Regions from separate parts of the Homo sapiens genome. Here region 2 is linked to region 1. The links come from fine-mapping of genetic effects on gene expression. Tissue or cell type: whole blood. Region 1 holds a variant in brackets; the other region holds the start of a gene. Each region is shown on its reference strand, or each on the opposite one.

The links. PIP is the estimated chance that this variant, and not a neighbour inherited with it, causes the effect. A credible set is the group of variants that fine-mapping cannot tell apart.
Region 2: it holds the start of ALOX15B, and the variant in region 1 is the best candidate, but not a certain one, in a credible set for the expression of ALOX15B in whole blood (TOPMed, PIP 0.52).

Annotation. Positions count from the first base shown.
Region 1 is chr2:43,487,671-43,498,864 of GRCh38, reverse strand. THADA (THADA armadillo repeat containing) reads left to right here. Exons shown (of 38, transcript NM_022065.5): 25 at 1-32. It also overlaps the pseudogene RN7SL531P. Among named protein-coding and RNA genes, the nearest start is that of THADA, 100 kb to the left of the region's middle. The variant G/A (reference allele first, on the strand shown) is at 4,496.
Region 2 is chr17:8,031,547-8,042,740 of GRCh38, reverse strand. It overlaps ALOX15B (arachidonate 15-lipoxygenase type B), which reads right to left and starts at 3,682. Exons shown (of 14, transcript NM_001141.3): 1 at 3,439-3,682; 2 at 3,136-3,355; 3 at 2,758-2,839; 4 at 250-372. The coding sequence starts at 3,585. It also overlaps the pseudogene LOC124904131.

The DNA of each region.
Region 1 (11,194 bases):
CAATTCTGGGTTTTACATCACCGGTCTGGGCAGTAAGTGCTGTCACTATTTATTTTCATTGATTTAATTATGCTTCTGAGTAGGTTTTAATAAACTAATCTTTCACTGGGTGATAAAAAATATTTCCTGCCCTTTACCATGAATTTTCTTAGAAATCTTTGGATCAAGCTACATTTTTGATTCTTGATATTTCATGGTTCCATTTTCACTCATTTGTTGGCTTGTTAGCCATCTTTCTTTTTTTTTTAATTTTATTGATTGCTTTAGGGTTTACAGTATGTATGTTTGACTGATCACAGACTACTCTCAAGTGATATTACACCATGTCACTTAAAGTATAAGAACTTAATAATAGTGCACTTCTGTTTCTCTCCTCCCAATCTATGTGCTGTTATTGTTACACATTTTACTTTTATGTGTGTTGTAAACTTACACTACATTGTTGTTATTTTTCTTTAAATAGCCAGTTATATTTCTTTTCAATTTACCACTTTAACCGTTTTTTTAAGTATATACAATGCAGTGGCATTATGTGCATTCACAACAACATTTATCAGCACTGTGCATTTCTGGAACATTTTCATCATCCCGAGCAGAAGCTCTGTACTCATTAAACACTAACTCCCATCTCTCATCTCCCTCACCCCTAGTAACCTCTATTCTCCTTTCTGTCTCTGTGGATTTGCCTGGTCTAATACCTCATATAAATGGAATCGTACAATATTTGTCCTTATGTTATTGGCTTCTTTCATGTAGTATATGAAGGGTTGATCCATACTGTGTGGGGTGGGGGGCTGTGTGTGTATATTGGTTTATCAGTATACACACATCCCACATTTTCTTTTTTTAATTTTTATTTAAGTTCCAGGATACATGTGTAGAATGTGCAGGTTTTTTACATAGATATAAGCGTGCCATGGTGGTTTGCTGCACCTACCAACCTGTCATCTAGTTTTTTGTTTGTTTGTTTGTTTTTAATTGAGTTGGAGTCTTGCTCTGTCACCCAGGCTGGAGTGCAGTGGTGTGATCTCAGCTCACTGCAACCTCTGCTTCCTGGGTTCAAGTGATTCTTTTGCCTCAGCCTCCCGAGTAGCTGGGACTACAAGTGGATGCCACCACACCCAGCTAATTTTTGTATTTTTGGTAGAGAGAGGGTTTCACTATGTTAGCCAGGCTGGTCTCGAACTCCTGACCTCGTGATCTGCCCACCTTGGCCTCCCAAAGTGTTGGGATTACAGGCATGAGCCATAACGCTCAGCCTGTCATCTAGGTTTTAAGCCCGGCATGCATTAGCTATTTGTCCTGATGTTCTCCCTCCCTTCCTGACTCCAACAGGCCCTGGTGTGTGTTGTTCCCCTTTCTGTGTCTATGTGTTCTCACTGTTCAGCTCCCAATTATGAGTGAGGACATGCAGTGTTTGGTTTTCTGTTCCTGTGTTAGTTTGCTGAGGATGATGGCTTCTAGCCTCATCCATGTCCCTGCAAAGGACATGATCTCATTCCTTTTTATGGCTGAATAGTATTCCATGGTGTATATGTACTACATTTTCTTTATCCAGTCTATCATTGATGGGCATTTGGTTTGGGTCCATGTCTTTGCTATTGTAAATAGTGCTGCAATAAACATATGTTTCATATATCTTTATAGTCGAATGATTTATATTCCTTTGGGTATATATCCAGTAATGGCATTGTTGGGTCAAATGGTATTTCTGGTTCTAGATCCTTGAGGAATCACCACACTGTCTTCCACAGTGGTTGAACTAATTTACATTTCCACCAACAGTGTAAAAGTTTTCCTATTTCTCCACAGCCTTACCAGCATCTGTTGTTTCTTGACTTTTTAGTAATCACCATTCTGACTGGCGTGAGATGGTATCTCATTGTGGTTTTGATTTGTATTTCTCTAATCATCAGTGATGTTGAACTACCACATTTTCTTTATCCAAATTCATCTGTTGATGGACGTTTAGGTTGTTTCCACTTTTTGGCTATTATGAATAATGCTGCAATGAATTATAATGTATAAATTATCTGAGTCATTTTAGTTCTTTTGGGTATATCATATGGTAATTCCATGTTTAACTTTTTGAGGAATGAACAAACTTCTTCCCCAGCAGCAGCACCATTTTATACTCCCATCAGCCATGCACAAGTTCCAGTTTGTTTAGATCTTTACCAATACTCGTTATCTTTTTTTTTTTGATAATAGCCATCTTAATGGGTGTGAAGTGGCATCTCATTCTGATTTTGATTTGCATTTCCCTAATGATTAATTATGTTGATCTGGAAACAAAACAACTCTGAGCGTATAAATGTGTCTGTATTTTGGATGCTGTGGACTCTGCTGTTAGTATGTTAAGTTAGTGCTACAAATAAACTCTATCAAAAGTTTGAAAAAACGAGACACTCGCAAAACATTGAAATGGAAGAGGTTAAATACTGAGTCGCATTTTCTTTTGTAATATGTTCACTGTCCAGAAGCATTTTGATTCAAAACTTTAAAGATAATGGGCAATACCCAGTACAATTGTTGGATTTAAGAAAGTAATTTTTCGTGTGTTTTCTTATGATTTCTGGGAGAAACATTATAGTTTGTTTTCCTATATCATGTCTTCTAGAGTAAGGAGAATAATTATAGATGCTTGAAATGTGGCTTAAAGTAAAAAGTCTGGCAAAGGGAGAAGAGAAAAGAAGCTAGATCTTAATACATTACCTGCAGAGTGGAGTATTTACTAGAAAGTCAGGCTTTCCAGTTAGTAAGCTGCACAAACCATTTCTTACCTGTATGATAAGCCTCTAATTGAGAGTAAGTATTTTGCAGTGAAAGCCAAAGGCACAGACTCCCATTGTGAAGAGGAATCCTTTGAGGTTGCCAACTCTTGCCTAGAAAATTGTGCGTCTTCCTGTAAGAGATACACACTTCTGGAATTCTGTCTAAGAGCATTGCATAACTACTCTTGAGGACACAGAGTTTACCTTTTATACTTACAGGAAGTAGAGCAATGCCTTTATACTGTCAGTAGAGTCAGAGAGGTAGGAATGTGGCTTGACCATCAGGAATACTGGAGATCATAAAAGTGATTGTCAGAAATATCAATATTGCTTTCTTGAAGCCATTAGTTCCAGATGAACCAAGAAATATTTTCCGTGAAAGGACTTTCTGAGAGTGAAGCCTGGTGATTCGTCCAACTTTTTAGTAAAATTCAAACTATCAGAAATGAGTGATTCATTTTTTTTTTGAAAAGACTATTTTTTGAGACCCTAAACAGTAATACATGTGCACTGCAGAAATTTTGAAAATAAAGAAAAGCATAATAAGAACAGTAAAAGTCACCTGTTAAATTACCGTACAGATATGAGCATTCTGATTCATTTTCTTTCTCTTTTTTTATGTGTGGGCTTTACATGTGCATAGTACATGTATGCATACATATCCACAAAAGGCTGCATAAATATATATAAATGTTTTTATTTTCTTTCTAATTTCATAATACTAATAATTTTATTTCTTGGGATCTTCCTTTTTAACACTTTATGAAGGAAACATTTCTATTTAGTTTGCTTTACTAGAGGAAATAAATATCATAGCTATAATGATCAACACTGTTACTTAATATTATCAATGGTTATATTTTCTTCTGTATAAAAATCTAAGATAAAATTTATGAGTCAACCTATTTAATGGATGTGAAGAAGTATTCACTTACAAAAACAATTTACAAAAGCATTCTCTGTTGAAGTGATTTTAAGTGTGATTTTTCCTTAATGCATACGAAATACGGTTTGATTTGCAGAACTTTGATTTGTACACATCCTCTTGGGAATATAACTGTGCCTAAAGCTGGCTACATCTGTACTTTTGACTTGATTGTTTTTCCTGATAAGTTAGGGAAAACACACATGTAAAATGAACTTAATTTTAACTTGCAGTAAAGAAACATTTTTCAGAAAGCATTCATGTATATATTTAATTTGTTTTTACAGACTCCTTAGTCTTTCGTATTGAAACCATACAGATCTCTCAAACTTTGCTACCTAGTAGGCATTCTTAAAATATAGGGAAATGTAGTATGTAAATATTTTCGGCATTAGACATATCTGCTTACTGTATTGTAGATGTTATGTTAAGCACTAGAAATACAAGGATAGATAACACATAATCATAATAATGGCTGTCTTATTGAGTATTTCTCATGTACCTGGCATAATTTACATTGCATTGATTATCTTAGTAGCTTCTGTTATCCAGGTATGTTCTGTTATAATCCTCATTTTACAGATGAAGAAAACAAGGCTCAGAGAGATGAAATAACTCTGCCTAAGGACACAAAACTATTACCTGTCCAACTCCAGAATGTGTGCTATTGTAGAGGAGATGTTTGGGTATTTTAAGAATACAAAGAAGGTACATTTTACCTACCTTCTAGGGTTTTGGCCCTATTTTCTTATTAAACAGAGCTGGAAGTAAAGCCCGGGTCCTAACATTTTATTGA[G/A]TGGTACTAACCAAGACCAGCAGGAATGAAAGAAAAAGGGAAGTGAGGCAAGGAAAGATGAATGATATTACCAAGGGAACCTTAACCTTGCAGAAAATCTGAGCTGGTTGTCTTGTACATGGTGCATCTTCTAGCCAGACCATGTGAAACTACCACCTTTTGGAACAGCCCAATATGTTTGTCTTTTACTGGTCAAAGTTCATCCTTGGGGCATTACCACAATTTGGGCAGGTGTTGGCACAACCCTTGGGCAGCTGCTAGGGAAGCCAGATCGCATGTCCAGTGATGTGGCATCTCATCTGAGTCTGAAAGTGGCTGGATGAACCAGAGCTTCCATGGATATAGTTGGAACAGACCTGAGGTTTGAAATAATGACTTCTACTGTGTTGAAAAGCTCTGCATGAAAGAAATTTATAGCAGGGGAGTCATGGGATGTGATTGATGTAGGTAAAAGTGGAGACTTGATTGTAAGATAGCAAGAGGGAAGGAAGAAGACCAGTCAGGAAGCTATTGTAATAGTTCTACCAAAAGATGGTGGTGGCTCAGCAAAGATGGGGAAAAGTGATAGTCTTTAACATATTATTTATATTAAAAATATTTCAGAGATTAAACCAACCAGTTTAGTTAACAATCTAAGTTAACAGAAAGTAATTTGTGGAACCCGAGAATTTACTAGGCAGTTTTTGTTTAAAAATATCACTCATCTCTCTTTATTATGTTCAGTGACTAGGGGAGGCCTGATCTTCTTTCCTTGCATCCTCATCCTCATTGCAGAACAGGCAATTCTCGGCTTTCCCAGTGGAGCCCGCCCAAAAAACTCCACTGAGTATGCCACTTAGAGTCTTTCTAAGACCCACACTGGGTTTATTTTTATTTTGGACGGAGTCTTGCTCTGTCGCCAGGCTGGAGTGCAGTGGCATAATCTCATCTCACTGCAACCTCTGCCTCCCGGGTTCAAGCGATTCTCCTGCCTCAGCCTCACTAGTAGCTGGGACTACAGGCGCATGCTACCACGCCCAGCTAATTCTTGTATTTTTAGTAGAGACGGGGTTTCACCATGTTGGCTAGAATGGTCTCAATCTCTTGACCTCGTGATCCACCCGCCTTGTCCTCCCAGATTGCTGGAATTACAGGTGTGAGCCACTGCGCCTGGCCTATATTTTTATCTGGTGTATATTTAGCTTGCTTCCCCCAGGGTAATCTGGTTCATAGCATGCAGTGGGTTTCAAAGGAGGGTAGGAAAAAGATCCTGTTAGATCTGCCCAGTAGTGCTGCCATGCCATGGCTACTCTGTGCCTCTGTTGGCACCAGCATCTCCAGGCCCTCTGATAATTATGAGGTTGCCACAAGGGTGCTACACTGAGAGCTGTGTACTGCTGAAACCTAGCTGTGCTCTATTCACTGTGCCGCGTGCCTTGGCATGGAGCTTCATTGACCTAGAGGAAGAGGGACCTTTTTTCTAATTCACTCATATGTACTATATGGGCTAGTTTAAACCCTGTCTCTTCTTTTGTCTGCTCATAGGTGAAGTGTCTTGCTACTTTGGAAGAGGGTCACCAGAAACTCTAGGACATGGCTGGCCCTCCCTTTAATCATAGGCCCAGAAATCCCAGCACAGTTTTCCTGGATTACAGATGATAGACTTGTGACCCAAAGTTTTAACTGTCTTTTCATGGTCACATGGCTAAGAAGTGATGGAAGGCGAATTAGAACCCAAATCTCATTTAGTTTTCTCAGAAAATATTTTTTTCTGCTACCACGTACACAAGACAAAATATTAAGTGTCATGTGTGGATCCCATCCTTAAGAAATTGACTGCCTATTAAGGATAGGGTGTGTGGTGTGTAAATGACCATATTACATAGCAATTGCACATAGTAGGCTGTCCATTCATACTTTTCAAATATTTTTCAAGGGAGCATTTCTATTATATAAGAAAAGCTATATACATAGATAAGAAAAATATACACATATATACATGTGCACACACACACACAGAAGGCTTTGTGTAACCCAGTTTTAATTACCAAACTGTTCTGTATTTTTTTTTTTTTTTTGAGACAGAGTCTCACTGTGTTGCCCAGGCTTGAGTGCAGTGGCGCCATCTTGGCTCACTGCAACCTCCACCTCCCAGGTTCAAGTGATTCTCCTGCCTCAGCCTCCTGAGTAGCTGGGATTACAGGCGCCCGCCACCAAGTCCAGCTAATTTTTGTATTTTTAGTAGAGATGGGGTTTCACCATGTCGGCCAGGCTGGTCTCGAACTCCTGACCTCAAGCAATCCATCTGCCTCGGCCTCCCAAAGTGCTGGGATTACAGGTGTAAGCTACTGCACCCAGCCTCTTCTGTATCTTAAACGAGTCTACATGAAAGCTTTTTCATGCAAGAAAGGAAAGAAAAAGTTATACACTCTGTGAATAGAAGAGAAAAATTTTGGTAACAGTTGTCAGTTTGCAGTTGAATTCCAAGTTCCTATCAACCATGTATTTAGGGCTTGATGGAGAAGGAGGTCAGGAGCAGGAAGTGCTTCCCTCGTGAGAAGGATAGATTTTAGCTGGGATTAAAGTCATGCATTACTTAATGACAGGAATTAATTCTGAGAAATCTGTTGTTTGGGAATTTCATTGTTGTGTGAACATCATATTGTATACATGCACAAACCTAGATGTATAGCCTACTCCACACCTAGGTTGTATGATATAGCTTATTATTCCTAGGCTACAAACTGTACAGCATGCTATCATACTGAGTATGCTACCATGCTGAGTATGTAGGCATTTGTAACACAGTGTTAATTATTTGTATGTCTAAACATAGAAAAAGTACAGTAAAAATACAATATTATAATCGTATGGGACTATCATTACATATGTGGTCCATTGTTGACCACAGCATCATTTTGTGGTTCATTACAGCTATTATCATTTCTCCATTTTTAGCTGTACTACTGCTTACCCTTTTCTGTCTTTACTCTCCTTTTTACTTATTAATGGCAATAACTGCGGTTACTTTTGCACCAACCTAATGTGTTTTCCATCTATCCTTCCAAAAAGGGACATGTTTTATTGCCAATACTACTAATGTATTACTCACATTAAGATTGCTATCAATGATTCATATTAGCATTTATTGTCAGTGAATTAGGAGTTGATAATGTAGTTTGTTAGTCACAACCTCTTTCTCAATTCTTTGTCTACTTCAGTTTCCTCCTTGTTAGCTTTATTTATAGTGGATGGGAACAGAAAATATGGATGAAATAGTAAAACATACAAAGCAATACCTGAAACAGATATCCTTGAACCATTCATACTGTCACACAGAAATCTAGGGGACACTCTTCTGTCTTAAGTAGGAAGTAGGCTTTCATGCCAGTTATTTTGCTCTATATTTACAATAACTCTTTTAAGTGTTGTTCTGTATAACTTACAGAATTCTAAAACAGAGTATGTATTTTTCAACCTATAAAAATCAATTACAGTACTCCCCTCCTCAAATTTGAGGAGGATGCATTCCAAGACCCCCAGTGGATGCCTGAAACCATGGTTAGTACTAAACCCTATGGATTCTGTTTTTTCCTATACATACATACCTGTGATAAAGTTTAATTTATAAATTAGATATCATAAGAGATAACAATTATAACAATAGACCATAATAAAAGTTAAGTGAATGTGATTGCTCTCAAAATACGTTAGTGTACTATACCACAGGTAACTGAAACCACAGAAAGCAAAACTGCTAATGAGGGAGGACCATTGTAATGTAATATACTGTGTGAATAGACTAAAGAACAAAACCCACATTATTAAGCAGATACAAAAGAGGCATTTGACAAAATCTAATGCTATTTTATGTGAAAAAAAACTAAGAATGGAAGGGAAATTTCTCAACCTCAGTGGAAAATCCAGAGTCAACAATATACTTGATGGTAAAGGACTGAAATCTTTCTCTCTAAAATCAGGAACAAGACAAGGAAATCCACTCTTGTCACTCCTATTCAACATTGTACTGGAGTTCCTAGTAGGCCAACTAGAGAAGAATAAAAAATAAAAGTTATCCAGTAAAGGAAGATGCAAAACTATCTCTATTTTCTGATGACATGATCTTAAATATAGAAAAATCCTAAGGAATCCACACACATGCAAATTAAAGCTTGTCTATTAGCAAGGTTTCAGGACAAAAGGTCATCATACAGAAATTGTACACTAGCAGTGAAAAATCTAAATGAAATTAAGAAAACAGTTTCATTTATGATAGCATCAAAAAGAATAAAATACTTAGGAATAAATTTAGCAAAGGAACTGCAAGAGTTGTTCACTGAAAATTATCAAACATTTTTTGAAGAAATTATAGGCCTAAATAAATGGAAAGATCTCCTGTGTTCATCACTGGAAGACTTAACTATTGTTAAGATGACGTATTCCCCAAATTAATTAATCTATAGATTCAGCACAACCTCTGTTAAATCCCTTCTAGCTTTTTTTTTTTTTTTTTTTTGCAGATCTTAAAATACATATGGAAATGTGAGGGACCCATAATAGCCAAAACAATCTTGAAAAAGAACAAAGTTGGAGGCCCCACAGGTCCCAATTTCAAAACTTAATGCAAAGCAACAGTAAATTAGAGCTTGTGGCATTGACATAAGGTTAGGCACATAAATCAGCAGATTAGGATTGATTGTACAGAAATAAACCCCCACATTTAATAAAGGTGCCAAGACAATTCAGTAGAGAAAGAATAGCCTTCAACAAATGGTACGGGGACAACTGGATATCCACATGCAAAAGAATGAATGTGATCCCCATCTCATACCATATTCAGATGACTCAAAATGTCTTAAAAACCTAAATGTAAAAGCTAAAACTATAAAACTTGTAGAAGAGGACCTGGGTAAATTTTTGTACCTTGGATTAGATAACATTTAGTTAGATATGACACCTAAGGTACAAGCAATACAAAAATTGATAAATTAGACTGGGAATGAAAAAAACTGATAAATTAGACTCGATCAAAATTAAAAATGTCTGGCTGGGCATAGTGACATGCACCTGTAGTCCCAGCTACTCGGAAGGCTGCAGCTGGAGGATTGTTTGAGCCCAGGAATTCAAGGCTGCAGTGAGCTATGATTACACCACTGCACTCCATCCTGGGCGACAGAGCAAGAAGCTGTCTTAGAAAAGTTAAAAAAAATTTTTTTTAAATAAAGCTTAACCAGCATCAAGAAAAAAAATGTTTTTCAAAGGACACAATCAAGAAAGTATAAAGACAACCCACAGAATGGGAGAAAATATTTGCGTATTATACATCTGATAAGAGTGGAGTGTCCAGAATATATAAAGAACTCTTATAACTCAATAATAAACGACAACCCAATTTTAAAATGGACAAAGAATATTTATCTCCAAAAAAGATAGGCAGATGGCCAGTAAGCACACAAAAGGATACTTAACACCATTAGTCATGAGGGAAATGCTACAATGAGTTACCATTCCATGCCCACTAAAATAAAATGCATGGAAAATAACTAGTATTAGGGAGGATGTGGAGAAATTGGAGAACTGGTGAAATTGGAACGCTAATACATTGCCAGTGAGACTATGAAATGGTGCTACCACTTTGGCAGTTCTTTTGAAGGTTAAACATAGAGTTACTCTGTGACCAAGCAATACTACTTCTAGGTATATAGTCATGAGAAATGAAAACATGTTCACACAAAAACTTGTACATGAATATTCTTAGCAAAATTATTCATAATATTCCAAATTGGAAATAGCCCAAATGTCCGTCAAATGAAGAACAGATTTTAAAAATACGGTATATCTGTACAATGGGATATTATTAAGCCATAAAAAAGGAATAACATACTGATACATGCTACAACATGGGGGAACCTTGAGAACATTATGCTAGGTGAAAGAAGCCAAACATTAAAGGCCGCATACTACATGATCCCATGTATATGAAGTATCCAGAAAAGGCAAGTTTATAGAGACACAAAGTAGATTGTGCTTTCCTACTGCAGGAGAATAGGGAGTGACGACTAACGGCTCCCGAGTTTCATTTTGAGGTAATGAAAATATTGTGGAATTTGGTTAGTGGTGATAGCTTCACACTTTGTTAATATAGCAAAAACCACTGAATAGCATCCTTTAAAATAATAAATTTTATATGTGAATTATACCTCAATTTAAAAAAGTAATTTAAAAGTGATTTTAAAACAATCATGCAGTCACCTTTGGAGGTTGGTATGGCATGAACTAATTATTCTGAAAATGATCAATATATGGAAATAATTCTTTACTAACTGATGAACAGGGTAACCAAATAGCAGATGAGGAAAAACTTTAAAAAAATAAAGTTTTTCTGAGGATGTAAATGATTAATGCAGAAGGCCTATAGAATATCGTGATTTTGCTGCACCTAATGGAAAATGTAATGATCATCATTGATCGCTAATGAGGGCACTTTATAAGGGATATCTTAGTCCCTTCGGGCTGCTATAACAAAATACCACAAATTTATTTCCCACAGTTTGGAGGCTGGAAAGTCCAAGATCAATATGGTGGCAGATTCAGTGTCTGGTGAAGGCCTACTTTCTGGTTCATAGATAGCACCTTTTAGCTGTGTCCTCACATGGTAGAAGTGAGGCAGCTCACTGGGGCCTCTTTTATAAGGGCACTAATCGCATTCGTGAGAGCTCT
Region 2 (11,194 bases), not on the chromosome of region 1:
CTGGGAGACCCTTCCCTGTCAGCCAGCCTTATGCCTCTTGGGATCCTGAACCAGCCTCCGGGCCCAAGGTAGTCACTACCCCTAAGGTAGCTGTTGCTCTGTGGGATTGGTAGTGGGAAGGAGGCTGTTTCCTGGGCAGGACTATGTGACTCATATCACTGAGGGTGGGGGAACTGACTAGGGGAGGGCAGAAGGCAGAGGTCATAGGGCATCTGAGGCCCAGGGGCAGGGAAGGGTGGGCATCCTCACGCAGAGCCAGCCTGTAGATAAAAGTTGGCATTCTTGGCTGTGGAGTATTTGATATTGAGCTCCAAGTCTTCCACTGTCTTTTCATCCAGGCAGTGAGGCCAACCTGGGTTGTAAGCCTTCCACCTGGAGGGTAGAGAGGGAAGGTGGTCAGCAAGAGGCCTCAGGGAGACTCTTTGCTAGGGCAGATGGAGTGGCAGTCCCCTTGGGGGGCCTGGTCACAGCCAGACCCCTTCAGCCAAGAGGGCCCTCCTGGGAGCTGCCCTTCCATTCTACCCAAGGAGGCTGCAAGGGAGCTGCCATTTTCCCACAGTGAGATGGCTCCCCTGGTCAAGGGTGATTGGTCCAGAGTTGAGCACCTGACTAGAGCTGGGCCAATCAGAGTCCTTTCCAGGGAATTTGCCATTGGGGCTGAGCCAGAGAGGTGGTCTCTCTCTGGATATGTAGATTATAGCAGTAAACACAGACTGTTAGTTATGGCCATTTTCCACTGGGTGGACAATTCCTGCCTGTGTTTCTGTAAGTGCCTCTGTGTCTGGCCGACAAACTTTTTTTCTGCCTGCTAGTTGGAGTTAGCTTTTGTTCTTGCAACTATAGAAGTCCCGACTAACACAGACGCATCTTGTAGAGGCGAGACTATCCTGGGACAGGGGCTGCGCAGAAGGTTTCAGTTGCCTTTGGTAGGTGTCCCATAGAGAGGCACTTCAGCCTTCATAGTTTAGGGGGAGCCGCCCGAGGCATCTCTAAATTCTATTCTCAAACAAGCAACACAGCCAAAGACCTTCCAGGGAAATGGTAAATTCATGTATCTGCAAACTTGATGACCCCTAGCCAGTCATGCTCTCACTCATTCATTCTTTGATTCATTCAAAACTTGCTTTTGGGTTTGAGCTTTCAACTTCAAAGAAAAATTTGCAATTAAAGTACACTGCCACCAGGTGGTGGCCAAACCCTTCCTCTCAGACTTGAATCCCTCTCACATAGAGATCTTGGTTAAATGCAGATTCTGATTTCTAACAAGCTCCCAGGCAATGCTGTTGCAATGGATCTGAGACCTCACTGTACGTTTTATAAGAGCCTAGAGTGTTGGAACAGAGTGAACTGAAAGACAGGAACAACAGCAAGAGCACACAGTTGTGCAAGACTTAGCAGCTGACCACCTACATTCTTAACCATTTTCTCATTTGTTCCTCCTAACCCAAACGAGATTGGTATTCTTAGTTTCTTTTACAGAAGAAAATAAGAATTGAAGAGATGAAAAAATTGGTCTAAGATCTCACAGCTCGTTTTGGCAGGGCCTAGGCTGACTCTGGGTCTCCATGGACACAGTAGATCTCAATGTCTATTCCCTCTCTTGGGGCTGTTGCTGCCAGATTTGGTGCAATGGTTTCCTTAGGGGTGGAATTCATGACACATGGAGAATCACCAGGAACCAAATGAGCCTGTGGCTGCTCTGATCCCACAGACCAGGAGCAAAAGCCTGCAGCCCAGGCTTTAGATAGCAGATGAGTTGGCCGGATCAAGATCTTTTGAAAATCTGTTTCTGAATGCAGTTCCTGGCTTTGTGCCAAGGGAATCCTCACTAGCGGCCCCAACTCCTCTGTTATCTCCAAGTCCCAGTTTTCCCCTGTGATCTCCAATGCTGAGCCCAGAGCACAGAGAGAGCCCCCATCTCACCCCTTGCTAGCCCTGGAGGGTGAGTTTCCTGGGGCTTGAAGGGCGTGTTTCTGGCTCTACTCAGATTTCTGGGAGGACACAACAAGCCGATGCATGAAAAAGTCCCAGGGCAAGGAAGACACCAGCAAAGGTAAGGCATTTAAAGCAGTTTCTTTCTCTTTCTTTTCTTTCTTTCTTTCTTTCTTTCTTTCTTTCTTTCTTTCTTTCTTTCTTTCTCTCTCTTTCTTTCTCTCTTTCCTTCCTTTTCCTTCCTTCCTTTTTTTTTTTCTTTTTTTGAGATGGAGTTTTGCTCTGTCCCCCATGCTGGAGTGCAATGGCGTGATCGGCTCACTGCAACCTCCACCACCCGGGTTCAAGCTATTCTTCTGCCTCAGCCTCCCATGTAGCTGAGAATACAGGTGCCCGCCACCCTACCCAGCTGATTTTTGTATTTTTAGTAGAGATGGGGTTTCGCCCTGTTGGCCAGGCTGGTCTCGAACTCCCGACCTCCAGTGATCCGCCTCCCTCAGCCTCCCAAAGTGCTGAGATTACAGGTGTGAGCCACCACGGCACCTGGCCCTAGAGCAGTGTTTTTCAAACATCAGTGGCCACCAGAGTCATCTGGAAGGCTTGTCAAAACAAAAATTCCCACTCTACACCCTCAGTGTCGTAGTAGGTTGGAGGTGGCCTGAGAATTTGCATTTCTAATACGTTCCTGTAGACGCTGCTGATCCCAGGAGCAGCTTTGATAGGAGAGGTGGAGGCAGGGGCTTTTAATCTCTGTCATGACCAGGACACTCAAGCTGCCCCTCATCGTTTGGGCACACCCTCCCCCATCAGTAACCCCCTCCTCACTGGTACATCTCCTGCCGGGCCTGAAGCTCCTCCTGGCGCTGTTGCTGGAGCACAGGGTGGTGGTCTGCCCAGGACACCTTGGCTGTGGGAGAAGGGGAGTAGGTTGGGGTGGGGAGAGAAACTCACCATCACTACCACCAGCCACACAGTCTCCACGATTGCCACCCTCTACCAGGTCCCCTCCTCCCATAAGTACAGTTTCTCCTACACCAGGCTGCTACCTCCCGCTCCCCAAGGCTCCGCCATTCCCTCTCCTCTGCCCGCTACTCTGTGGCCACACCAGCTCACCTCTCCATTTCACCTGCCCTTCTCCCCAACCCCCAGTCCCCTACCCCTTCCTGTGCTCCCCCTGCAGCCCCAGCCCGGCCCGCCCCTCACCTGTACCCTCCTGCAGCACCAGGGTCCCCGCCCCCTCCAGCCACTGGTAGCAGGGGAAGAGGAGGTGGCCGCCCCGCGGCGGTGTCAGCTGGAACCAGCGGCAGAACCAGGCATCCGGGGCCAGGGGCCCCAGCAGGGGCAGCACTGGGGGCGCCTTGTGCACGCGCAGCAGCAGCACTCGGCCTACGTCCTCCGGGAGCGTCACCTGGAAGTCCTCCTCCTGAGGGGAGGTTAAGTATGCGTCAGGCCGGACCCTCCTGCTCGCCCCCTTCACCTCCACCCCATCCACTCCCACGCACTCACAGCGCCCGCAGTGAACTCCTTGCCGAGATTGTCCAGGGGCAGTGGGGGGCTCTCTCCCCGGGTCCCCACGATGCTGACAGACACTTTGTCCCATGTGCCAGCCCCGAAGGCTTCTCCGGTGGACACCCTGACCCTGAACTCGGCCATGCTGCCAGCCTAAGTCCAGCTCTCTACGGCGCACAGGGCTGCAGAGCGGGGCTCCCCCCTGGGACACGCCTGGTTATTGCCCCTGGTTATTGCCACTGACTCCAAGCCCAGTGGACTCCTCTAAAAAGCACGTCCGTTTCAGGGCGGGGAGGGGCGGGGCGGAGAGGCTGGAACACGCAACTAAAGTGGGGGTGGGCGGGGGATTGGCAGCGCTGGGAACAGGAGGGACTAAGAATACCCTGAGGTTTGGGGAACGGGGCCTTTCAGTGGTGGTGCCAGGCCAGAGAGCCTAGAGTTGGGACCCAGTTGGGGTGGGGGTAGATTTGTGCCCACCACGTCTGTTTGTTTTCCTTCTTAGCCTTAGAAGTCTATGCAAAAATATCACCCCATTTCCCACAACTCTTCTTGGGCCTGCGTTCATTATTTTTAAAATTTATTTATTTATTTATTTTTGAGACAGAGGCTTGCTCTGTCGCCAGGCTGGAGTGCAGCAGCATGATCTCGGCTCACTGGAACCTCCTCCTCCTGGGTTCAAGTGATTCTCCTACCTCAGCCTCCCCAGTAGCTGAGACAACAGGCGAGTGCCACCATGCCCAGCTAATTTTTGTATTTTAGTAGAGACGGGGTTCCACCATGTAGGCCAGGATGATCTTGATCTCTTGACCTCATGATCCGCCTGCCTCGGCCTCCCAAAGTGCTGGGATTACAGGCGTGAGCCACCGCGCCCAGCCTACATTCATTATTTTATTTCATTCAATAATTAATGTTCAGAACTACCTCTGTGCCAGGTGCTATGCTCACTGCTATTGATAAAGGCCCAGGCAAGACCTAGTGCTTGCTCTCATGGAGATTAAAAATCAAGTGTGAGGCCAGGCACAGTTGCTGGCCAACATGGTGAAACCCCATCTCTACTAAAAATACAAAAAAATTAGCCAAGCGTGGTGGCGGGCGCCTGTAGTCCCAGCTACTCAGGAGGCTGAGGCAGGAGAATAGCTTGAACCCGGAAGGCGGAGGTTTCAGTGAGGTGAAGTTGTGCCATTGCACTCCAGCATGGGCGACAGAGCAAATCTCGGTCTAAAAAAAAAAAATCAAGTGTGAGAGAAAATAAGTAAACCAACACATAATTTCAGATGATAATAAGTGCAATGAAGGAAATGAAACAGACTAATGTGAAGGAGTGAGAAGCAGAGGTGGGAAGGGAGGCGTTCAGAGCCTCAGAGGAGGTGAAAGGATCTGTCTGGGGAACAGAGTTTTGTGCAGAGGAAACTGTTCCTGAAGAGGCCCTGTGGTTAGGAAAAGCTTGGCTTGTTGGAGGAGGGAAAGGCAAGAGTGCAGTGAGGGAGGGATTTGGGGGAGAGATGCCAAGGGGAAGTTATGGATTTGGGCTTTGGGGGAATAACATAACAGATTTGGGGTTTTCGGTCTGGAGATGCTAAGTTTGAGATGGCCATTAGACATCCAAGTGGAGAACCCACGTCTGGGCATAGAGCTCAGGACTGCAGGTGTGCATCTTTGAGTCACAAGCACACAGGTACATCTATACCACAGGCTGGTGGAGATCACTAGGCAGAGAATATCCTATAAGTAGAGAAGAGAAGAGGCACAAGCTGTGCCCTAAGGTCCTCTGATATTTGGAAGTCATGCAAAGGAGTGGAAGCAGCAAAGTTCAGTCAATGAGGTAGGAGGAGAACGATGCCGGCAGACACTTTGTCCTCTTGTGCCTGTCACAGTGTTTCATGAAAGCCAACTGAAGTGAGAGTGACTTATCATGTATATTCCATATATACCATGGAATACTATACAGCCATGAAAAAGAATGAGATCATGGTCAGGCATGGTGTCTCACACCTGTAATCTCAGAACTTTGGGAGGCTGAGGCAGGCAGATCACGAGGTCAGGAGTTCGAGACCAGCCTGACCAACATGGTGAAACCCCATCTCTACTAAAAATACAAAAATTAGCTGGGTGTGGTGGTGACTGCCTGTAATTCCGGCTACTCAGGAGGCTGAGGCAGGAGAATCATTTGAACCCGGGAGGCAGAGGTTGCAATTCCAGCTACTCAGGAGGCTGAGGCAGGAGAATCACTTGAACCCGGGAGGCGGAGGTTGCAGTGAGCCAAGATCGTGCCACTGCACTCCAGCCCTGGTGATAGAGCGAGACTTCGTCTCAAAAAAAAAAAAAAAAAGAATGAGATCATGTCCTTTGTGGGAACATGGATAGAGCTGGAGGCCATTATCCTTAGCAAACTAACACAGGAACAGAAAACCAATATTGCACGCTCCAGTTCTTACTTTCAATTCTTTAGGATATATACCTAGTAGTAGAATTGCTGGATCATATGGTAACAGTATGTTTAATTTTTTTTTTTTTTTTTTGAGACCGAGTCTCGCTCTGTTGCCCAGGCTGGAGTGCAGTGGCGCAATCTGTGCTCACTGCAACCTCCGCCTCCTGGGTTTAAGCGATTCTCCTGCCTCAGCCTGCTAAGTAGCTGGGATTACAGGCGCCTGCCACCATGCCCAGCTAATTTTTGTATTTTTAATAGAGATGGGGTTTCACCACATTGACCAGGCTGATCTTGAACTCCTGACCTCAGGCGATCCACCCACCTCGGCCTCCCAAAGTGCTGGGATTACAGACGTGAGCCACTGTGCCCAGCCTGTATATTTAATTTTTTGAGGAACCGCCATACTATTTTCCACAATGGACGCAACATTTTACATTCCCACCAGCAATGCAGGAGGAGGGTTCCAGTTTGTCCACCAATGCTTGTTATTTTCTGTTTATTTGATAATAGCCATTTTAATGGGCCTGAACTGGTATCTCATTGTGGTTTTGATCTGCATTTCCCTAATAATCGGTAATGTTAAGCATCTTTCCATTTGCTTGTTGGCCATTTATGTATCACCTTTGGAGCAATGTCTGTTAATGTCCTTTGCCCAAACCATCCGTTCTTAATTCTTATCCATTGCTAGGTTGAATTTTAGATTTATCATGTGAGTCGTATGCAAGACCCACACGTTTTCAAATACGTCAAATGTTTTTATTTATAGATCACTCTTTTTTTTCCTAAAGTAGTATCTATAGTACATTTCTTTATTCATATATCTTCACATGGTCAAGTTTTCTTTCATACATCCAAAATGTAGTGTGATGTTTTCTTATTCACCAAATGTTAGCTCTACTTGTAGTCTGGTTCCAAACTAATCAGCCTGCTTTTAAATTTTAAGACATTTGTTGAAAAAAAAATTTTTTTTCTTTTTTCTTTTTTTTGAGATGGAGTCTCGCTCTGTCGCCCAGGCTGGAGTGCAGTGGCGCAATCTTGGCTCACTGCAAGCTCCGCCTCCCGGGTTCACGCCGTTCTCCTGCCTCAGCCTCCTGAGTAGCTGGGACTACAGGCTCCCACCACCACGCCTGGCTAATTTTTTGTACTTTTAGTAGAGACAGGGTTTCACCGTGTTAGCCAGGATGGTCTCCATCTCTGACCTTGTGATCCGCCTGCCTTGGCCTCCCAAGACATTTGTTGAAAGTTTATAGGATCAAACCAAACTCAAGTGGTATCATTTTTAAACATTGGATTGTACATTATTGTAAAGGTACCAGTAACCATTATTATTAAGAATAAGTTAGTGATTATAGCTCCTTTTGTAATAATTAGATCACTCTCATAATACAAATCAATATTGCAAGTATCCATGTGCCAAAATCTAGTGAGTCTAGGAAAAAGTGAAAATGCTTTATTGTCTCTTCATCCTAAAATACATCCTTGGATACTTAGAAATTTCAGTGAATCTATTTTAAAGGAAACTTTGTGTCACTATTGTAAATCGAAAATTCGTTTCATTTCCCATAATAGAAGGTAAGAATAAAGGAGAATGCAATGAAAACCAAACAGTGTAATTCAATTCCAGGTAGATTCTTTTGCCTGTGGCCAGCTCCCTGTTCCAGGAGATTATCTAACGCTAAAGGGGTGCTAAAAACATATCAATACCAAATTGACACTTTCTCCCTGAAAAGGGGAATTGATTTGCCGTTTTATCTCAATTAAACCTGTGATCTTGCACCTCCAAGGACTTGTCCTGGAGTAGCGTTGCTCAACGTGTGGCAAGCAGATGGCTGGCATCAGATGTCTTTGAATGCTTATTAAAAATGTCAGTTCCGGGTTGGATGTGACTCCTGCCTATAATCCCAGCACTTTGGGAGGCAGAGGTGGGTGGATCACTTGAGGTCAGGGGTTTGAGACCAGCCTGGCCAACATGGCAAAACACCATCTTTACTAAAAATACAAAAATTAGCTGGGCCTGTTGGTGGGTGCCCATGGTCCCAGCTACTCAGGAGACTGAGGCAGGAGAATCGCTTGAACCCAGGACGCAGAGATTCCAGTGAGCCGAGATCATGCCACTGCACTCCAGCCTGGGCAGCAGAATGAGCAGTGTGAGACTCTGTCTCAAAAGAAAAAAAAAATGCCAGTTCCCCATCCCTGCCTCACACCAAGGAGGCAGACTCCCCAGAAGATTAGCCAGGGAATCTACATTTTACAGTAGGGTGATTCTTCTTTAGAACCACTGCCCTTGATCCTTTTGTACTTGGTAAGCATGATGATTGGGTTTTTATGCTTATATATGAGACATGCTTGTCTCAAATCTTGTTACAGCACATTACCCTTCCTACTTAAAAGGTTAAAAAAAAAAAGAACCATCGCCCTTGATCATGTAAATATTTTATTACATTCTGTCCTACAGCTCATGATGATCTCAGACAGGTTGAACAGGAGTTGTCACCCAACCCCTCAAGATATAGATGAAGAAATCTGAGCCCTGACTGGGAAAGGGGTTTACTTGAGATTTTAAAATGTCCATTAAGTCATGTGCACCCCATCTTTGAGCCCCTGAATGATTTGGCTCCTGCTTGCCTTCTTTTTTTTTTGAGATGGAGTCTTGCTCCGTTGCCCAGGCTGGAGTGCAATGGCACCAACTCGGCTCACTGCAACCTCTGCCTCCTGGGTTCAAGCCATTCTCCTGCCTCAGCCTCCTGAGTAGCTGGGATTACAGGTGCCCATCACCACGCTCGGCTAATTTTTTTGTATTTTTAGTAGAGATGAGGTTTTGCCACATTGGCCAGGCTGGTCTCAAACTCCTGACCTCAGGTGGTCCACCTGCCTCAGCCTCCTAAAGTGCTGGGATTACAGGCGTGAGCCACTGCACCGGGCCTTTGTTTCCCTCCCTCCCTCCCTCCCTTCCTTCCTCTTTCCTGTCTTCTCTTTTACTTTCTTTTAAATTCGAATATTCTCATCAAAGCTGTAGATGCATATGATTTAAAGAGTCAAATAGTTCTACAAATCTCTCACCAACAACTGCTTCCTGCTCCACTTCTGTCCTTTCCCTCTCATGAAAGACAATAACTTTCACTACTTTCTTTGATAATCTAAACCACTGCATCTCAAAATAGCATGCATGATTGTTTATTTAATGATTTTTCAGCTTTAGGCAAATATTGGCTTCCCCCTGTGGAAGATAGGATTTTTTTTTTTTTTTTTTGAGACGGAGTTTCGCTCTTGTTACCCAGGCTGGAGTGCAATGGCATGATCTTGGCTCACCGCAACCTCCGCCTCCTAGGTTCAAGTGATTTTCCAGCCTCAGCCTCCTGAGTAGCTGGGATAACAGGCATGCGCCACCACGCCCGGCTAATTTTTGTATTTTTAGTAGAGACAGGGTTTCACCATGTTGGTCAGGCTGGTCTCGAACTCCTGACCTTGTGATCTGCCCGCCTCGGCCTCCCAAAGTGCTGGGATTACAGGCGTGAGCCACCGTGCCTGGCCTGGAAGATAGGATTTCATTTTCTTTCCTAGTCTTGCTCCCATTTGCAAACGTTTCTCACCCCCATCCTTCTAGTACAGTTTTATTAGGACCGAGCAAACGACACTCAGTGTTTACGTGATTTTTGTTATGGATATGCTATTCATAGGGGACATTTATAGTATACTGTAATTATTTTTTTCTTCCATACAAAACCTTTTGTTGTTTCTCTATATAATAATGATTATATTATTGGTCTGGTTTTCTATATATTTTTCATTAGTTTAATCCGAAACTTCACCACTTGTTCAGATTGCCTCTCTATCAGTTCAGACACATCCATTTCCCAGTCGGTTCCACTGTGTGAAGGAGTCTCTCCAGTGTGTCCTGTTGGCTTCTTTCCTGGTCCTCCTGAGCTCTTGCTTCACCACCATCCTTTGTCTTCCTTTTACCTCTCTGCTGTGCTGGAGATTTGTTTCCCGGATCTCATGTTTTGTTATTTCCTGGCTTATTTCTTGGGCTAAGCAAGAAAGGGTATGTGGGAGGGAGGAGAAGTTTTTAAGACTTTGCATGTCTGGAAATGCCTATAATCTATCTATACACTTAAATAGTAGCTCTGAAATCAATTTTTTTTTTTTTTTGGTTCGGAATTTTGAAAGCACTGCTCCAATGGTAGCAGTGTTGCTATAAAGAAGCCTAGAGCTATTTGCATTCCTGATTATTTTCATATGACATGACATTTTCTCCAGAAGCTTTTAGGAGCCTCTCCCTGGCCCAGCTTCCATAATTTCACAATGATGTGCCAAGGTGTAGTCAATTTTTATTAATTGTGCAGTGCTCTCAGTAGGTCCTTTCAGTCTTGAAATTCATGACCCTCAGTGTTGGGAAGATGTCTTGAATTATTTCATCGATTATTTCCTTCTCTTTATTTTTTCAGTGTCTCTTTTTTGAACTTATACTTTAGATGTTGGGTCTCCCAAACTGGCTCTCCAGTTCCCATTCTCGATTTCATTTATTCTCCATTTTATTTTATTTCCAATTTCCCATCATTTTGCCTTTTGTTCTGTTTTCTAGTAGATTTTCTCAACTTTCTCCTCTAGTCCTATTGAGCTATTATTCCTCCTATCATATTTTTTTCACTGGTGGGGTCTTGCTATGTTGCCCATGCTGGCCTTGAACTGCTAGACTCAAGTGACCTTCCTACCTCACCCTCCTGAGTAGCTGGGAATATAGACATGGGCCACCATGTCCAGCCTGTGTATATTTGTTTTATTAGTAATCTGTTTGTGTTTCATGCTTGCGATATTTGACCTTGTTTCTCTGAGGATATTAGTGATAAGGTATTTTGGATTTTTGTTTGTTTCTTTTTTTGTTTTTGTTTTAAGATGGAATCTCTCTCTGTCACCCAGGCTGGAGTGCAGTGGCACGATTTTGGCTCACTGCAACCTCTGCCTCCTGGGTTCAAGCGATTATCTTGCCTCAGCCTCCTGAGTAGCTAGGACTACAGGCATTCGGCACCATGCCCAGATAATTTTCATATTCTTAGTAGAGACGGCGTTCGCAATGTTGGCCAGGCTGGTCTTGAACTCCTGACTTCAGGTGATCCAACTGCCTCGGCCTCCCAAAGTACTGGGATTATAGGCGTGAGTCGCTGCGCCCGGCCTGTTTGTTTCTGATATTTGTGGTATGTGGGTATTATCTATTGCTGCAGAATAAACTACTATAAACCATAGTAGCTTAAAACACCAAGAACCATGTATTTGCAGATGATTTTGCAATTTGGGCAGGAGTCCATGCAGTGTCAGCTGGAGTCCTTC